2 separate regions of the Homo sapiens genome follow, and region 2 is linked to region 1. Evidence: fine-mapped expression QTL. A gene starts in region 1. The other region holds a variant in brackets. All regions are shown on one strand. Distances are between the middles of the regions. Region 1 holds the start of MSL2 (MSL complex subunit 2). Region 2 overlaps LOC105374122 (a long non-coding RNA gene).

Evidence for each region.
Region 2: its variant is fine-mapped to the expression of MSL2 in regulatory T cells (Schmiedel 2018, PIP 0.95).

The regions. Positions count from the first base shown.
Region 1 is chr3:136,195,166-136,198,074 of GRCh38, reverse strand. It overlaps MSL2 (MSL complex subunit 2), which reads left to right and starts at 1,740. Exons shown (of 2, transcript NM_018133.4): 1 at 1,740-2,909. RefSeq lists enhancers at 1,193-1,492, 1,663-1,712, 1,290-2,036, 2,663-2,732, 2,037-2,783 and 2 more and a silencer at 1,933-2,322.
Region 2 is chr3:135,425,885-135,428,793 of GRCh38, reverse strand. The region is part of intron 4 of LOC105374122 (a long non-coding RNA gene); the gene reads left to right. Among named protein-coding and RNA genes, the nearest start is that of PPP2R3A, 540 kb to the left of the region's middle. The variant T/C (reference allele first, on the strand shown) is at 1,223.

The DNA.
Region 1 (2,909 bases):
CCTTAGAGTCTGGAGTAAAAATAGAACCGTGTAACAATTTTATTTGAAGGAGAGCTTAGAAAAGATCTCTTATGCAAAAAAAAAAAAAAAAAGAGAGCTTTTAAAAATGAGAGTGGCTTTTAGAATATTTGTCATTTTCCACGTATAAGACAACCAAATACAGTTTGCACAGCTAATCAAAATTAGGAAGTTATATTCTTACTGCTTAATATTTAAGTGTTGATAATATGGTAGGTCTTGTGAAAAAAAAACCTGTCTTCAAATGGTAATAGAAATTATAAATCGAGATTATATGTGTTCCCTTGATATCTTAACTATTCCTACTCACCTCAAGTGGCAGCTTGTAACTAACACGTACCACATTTACATGTTCCATATACGTGCCTGTGTACATATGTAACATGTGCCACAATAGATTTACACGCATCATAATTTTCACTTTGCAAACGTATAGAGTACCTACTGTGCATGAAAAATTATGCTGAGGAGCTTTGGTGTGTACAGAGATAAGAAATGCTTCCTATGGCCTGTTACTATTTGTGCTACTCAAAAAAAGGTTTTGTACTTTGAGATGGGAGGGAAGTCATCTACTAAGTCAGGCTTTTGTTTATTTATATCCCAGTGCCCTTGATCTCCTGCAAAAACAAAAGGCAAAAGCTTGTTTTAAAAAACAAAACATTTGCAAGGATTTGGGTTTGTTCTAGAGCAAGATCACGCATTCTTCAAGACATCTGTTCACACAGAAGAGCTAGGTCTTTTAAAAAAGCTAGGTCTTTCAAAAAAAAAAAAAAGGAGTTCGTTTTGTTTTTAAAACAGGACTCTGTTCCGGTGAGAGCTCGGTGAAGTCCTGATCGGCACCCATGAAGGTGAGGCCGCACGAGTCCAAGGGCCAGAGGCCGTGGGAACAGCGCGGGTCCGACGGGTAGGAGGGGGCAGTGGGTTCGAGCCTCCACGCTTACATACAGCCTGCCAGGGCCTTAGAGCCCTCTGACTGCGAACCACCGCAGAGAGGTGCGGAACGCGGCCCCGACCCGGCAAAAGCCGTCCGCACGCCTGCTGGGCGCGCAGCCACGTTGACTACTGCAGCCTTCCCGGCTCGGCGAGAGCCTGCCAGCCAGCCGAGGCTGCGCCCTTTCCGCGGTCGGGATGAGCGGTTCCAGGAGAAAGGCCGCGAGGGCGGGGCTTGGGGCCTGGCGCGGCTATTTCCTCACACCGCGGTCAGTCAGGACGAGAGGCCGCGTTCAGGCCAGTGCAGAGCGCCACATGGCGCTACCAAGTCGGGCCCCGGCGTTGGCGGGCACAGAAGCAGTGTAATGCGGGAAGCCTGCAGCCCACACTGGGGAAGGATGTGCCAGCTAACGAATGTTTCACCACAGCCCACATGCCTGGGAGAGGGAATTTGAGAGCACGTGGGGGAGGGGCGAAGAGAGCTGTCGGCTCGCAGAGAGCATGCTCCATTCTGAGAGTCGAAGTGGAGAGCCAGGCATGCGCAGTGAGCCCAGGGTGGGTTGGCAGCGGTGAGGGACTGGCGCGAGCAGGCTGATGTGTTTATCCGGTTTTCTGGGTGGGCGGTCAAAGCGCACGCGGAAGGGCGAAAGGCGGCGGAGCTAGGTAGCAGCTTGCGCATGCGTGGAGTGAGCCGGTAGCTCTGGGAGGCTGTGGAGGGGGTTGTTAGAGGAGAAGCAAGGGAAAAGGGAAGCGAAGGGAGAGGAAAGGGGGGAGGGGTGAGAGTGTGCTCTGCGCATGCGTGCGAGCGCTAGCGACGACGGCGGCGGGGGAGTCTCGGGGATGACAGTGGCTTTGCCCGTTGGGGTAACGGTCGTCGTCGCCGCCAGCAGAGGCCTGAGGCGCCACACAGCCCGCGGGATCCATTAAGGCCGCAGCAGCCCGGGCCCTACCGAGCTGGAGTGGCGCGTGGAGTCGGGGTGAGGGCGGCGAGGCACGGGGGAGGGGCCTGCGGCGGGGCCTTGCTGTGTGCGCTGGGCGGCGGCGGGGCCTGGCGGTGTGAGCGCTTGCCTTCCGCGGCCGGGGAGTGCTGAGGGCGGCGGCGGCCGTCGTGCTCGGCGGAGGAGTCGTCTGTGTGTGTGGCGCCGAAAAAATGGCCGGGCAGTGAGGGGGCGGCGCTTGAGTCTGGTGACCCCGGAGTGTGCGACTGAGGCGCGAGGGGCGCCGCCGCGGCCCGGCCGGGCTTGCCCCCCGCCCCCTCCCGCCCGCCGGCGGCGGCCCGCGCACTTCCTCCCCGGCCTTCCCCTCCGGGTTGAGGACTCCCGCCCGCCTCGCCACCTCGGGGAACTGCGGGCTGCAACCCACGGGGCGGAGAGCCAGGGCGCAGTCTGGGCCCCGCGTCCGATATGGAGAGCGCGGCGGCGGCGTCCGCCAGCCGCAACATCAACCTTCGTCGCCGCCGCGGCGTCTTGCACTAGATCCGGGAAGCCGCTGCCCGACCGTCGTCCTTGCCGTCGCCGCCGCCTCCGCGCCCTGTACTGGGATGGAGTAAGAGGCCCTGCAGCCCGGGAGAAGCGTGCCGCGCCTCAGACGGGGCCGGGGCCTGCTCCCGCGCCTGCCAGCTCGACTTGAGGAGGCGCCTCCGTGTCCGGAGATGGAGCTCGAGTGCAGGCCGCCTGCCGAGCCGCGGGGCTAGACTGAGCTCCGAGTCCCGCCCCGAGCGCCCAAGCCGCCGCGTTCTGCGCTCTGTGGTCGCTCCGGACGAACTCGAACGCTGGTTTCTCTCTCATATTTTTGGTCTGGAAGTCTCAGGGACGGAGGGGCGCCAAGGCCCCATGTGTGGGAGGATTGTTTCAGCTCCACAAACTTGCACGGATTTTGGTTACTTGTTTGGCCAATGGTTCGGCTCTGATTTCTTCCGAATTGTTGCAAATTCGCCATCGTTCCCTGGCTGCTTACTAAGT
Region 2 (2,909 bases), 770 kb after region 1:
TTTTATTTCCTCTTTTCCAGCCGGTATATATTTTATTTTTTTCTTAACTCATTGCACTGGGTAGGACTTTTTGTACAATGTTAAGTAGAGGTGGTGAGACAGTATATCTTTGCTTTTTTCCCAAGTTAGAGAGAAAGCATTCAGTCTTTATGTAACATTAAGTCTGATGTTAACTTTATGCTTTTTATAGCTGTCTTTTATCAGGTTAAAGAAGTTATATATTTCTAGTTTGGTGAGAACTTTTAGCAGGAATGGATATCAAATTTTGCCAAATGCCTTTTTTCATTTACTGACATAAGAGATATTGATCTGTAGTTTTTATTTTCTCTTTTTTGGAATGTCTTTGTCCAGTTTCTGTATCTGAATGTTTATTACTTTGATCAATTCAGATATTTCTTTGTATCCATGTATTGCTTGTTCTCTACTCTTTCTATTTTCTTCTTCTGGAGCTCTTTTCAGATGTATGTTAGACCCTTTGGTCTATTCCCCATATTCCTATTTCTCTTTCATGTTTTCCATCTGCAGTAATTTGCTAGGGTTAACAAAACCACAGATGGTGTAGCTTAAACAACAGGATTTTATTTTCTTACAGTTCTGGAGACTAGAAGTTCAAGATCAAGGCATTGGCAGGTTTGGCTTCTTCTGTGGCTTCTTTCCATGGCTTGCAAATGGCTATCTTCTTGCTGTGTCCTCACGTGGTTACCTCTCAGTCTGTGTGTTGTCTGTGTCTTAATCTTTTTTTTTTTTTAACGATACTTTAAGTTCTAGGGTACATGTGCACAACGTGCGGGTTTGTTACATATGTATACATGTGCCATGTTGATGTGCCGCACCCATTAACTCGTCATTTACATTAGGTATATCTCCTAATGCTATCCCTCCCCCCTTCCCCAACCCCACAACAGGCCCCAGTGTGTGATGTTCCCCTTCCTGTGTCCAAGTGTTCTCATCGTTCAATTCCCACCTATGAGTGAGAACATGCGGTGTTCAGTTTTTTGTTCTTGCGATAGTTTGCTGAGAATGATGGTTGTAACTCAAAATAATCTTCTCTTCTTCTAAGGACACCAGTCATATTGGATTAGTGCCCACCCATATGACCTAATTTTACTTTAATTGACTTTTTAAAGACCCCACCTTCAAATACAGACACATTCTGTGGAACTAGTGTTAGGACTTCCACATATGACTTTGGACAGAGGGCACAATTCAGCCTGTAGCACCA[T/C]TTCTTTATTTTTCAGTGCCTCATTATAGTTGGTTGTTTTTAAAAACATAATTATTTAGATATAATTCTGTATTACCCTGTTCTTGCATTGCTGTAAAGAAATAGCTGTGACTGGATAATTTATAATTTAATTGGCTCATAGCTCCACAGGTTGTACAGGAGACATGATGCTGGCATCTGCTTGGCTTCTGGGGAGGTCTCAGGAAACTTACAATCATGGCAGAAGGTGAAGAAGAAGTAGGTGTCTCATATGGTGGGAGCAGGTGCAAGACAGAGTGAGGGGGGAGGTGTCACACACTTTTAAGCGACCAGATCTCAAGGGAACTCAGTATCATGAGGAGAGTATCAAGGGGGATGGTGTTAATCCATTCATGAGAAATCCACCCCTATGATCCCATCACCGCGTACCAGGCCCCACCTCCAATGTTGGGGATTACAACTCAACATGAGATTTGGTGGGGACACAGATCCAAACCATATCAAATTCACATACCATAAAATCAACCCATTTAAGGTATACAATCCAGTGGATTGTAGTATACTCACACAGTTGTGCAATTACCACCACAAACTAAAAAAACAAAATGCTCCACCTATTAGCAGTCACTCTCCATTTTGCTCCCTTCCTAAATCCTAGGCAACCACTAATTTACTTTCTGTCTCTATAGATTTGCCTATTCTGATATTTTAGTATAAATGGAATCAGACAGTATGTGGTTTTTCTATCTGACTTCTTCAGTTAGCATAATGTTTTCAAGGTTCATCCAAAGCGCATGCATCATCAAGTTGTTCTTTTTAATTGCTAAATACTACATCATTACATGAATATGTCACATGATGTGTATCCATTTATCAGTTGCTAAACATGTGGGTTGCTTCACCTTACAGTTAATATGAATAACACTATTAACATTGTAGACACACTTTTGTGTGGGCATATGTTTTCATTTCCCTTGGGCAAATACCTAGGATTGAAATTGCTGAATCATATGGCAAGTCTGTGTTTGACAATTTGCAAAACTGCCAAACTGTTTTCTCAAGTGCTGCGCCATTTTGCATTCCCACTTAAAATGCCTAAAGGTTTTGATTTGTATGTATCCTCCCCAACATTTATTAGTATGTGACTTTTTTTATTCTAGCCATTTTAATGGATATGAAGTTGTGTCTCATTGTAGTTTTGATTTGCATTTTCTTGATGACTAATAATGTGAAGCATCTTTTTATGTGCTTGTTGGTGATGTGTTTTTTCTTTATTCTATTAATGTGATATTTTATATTGATTGATTTTCATAAGTTGACCCAATCTTGCATTCCTAGGATAATTTCCACTTGCTTATGGTGTGTAATCCTTTGTATATATGGCTAGATTCAGCTTGCTGAGGGTTTCTTGCTTGTATATTTCTAAAGGATATTGGTCTGTAGTTTTCTTTATGTGATTTATTTGTCTGGTTTTGGTATCAGGGTAGTGTTGGTCTCGTAGAATGAGCTGAGAATTGTGCCCTATTCTTTTGTTTTCCGGAAGCATTTGTGAAGAATTGGTACTAATTTTTCATTAAGTGTTTGGTTAAATTTATCTTTGAAGCCATCTGGGCCTGGGCTTTCCTTGTGGCTGGCTTTTAAATTATTAATTCATTCTTTTCACTTGTTATAGGTCTATTCAGATTATCTATTTCTTATTACGTCAGTT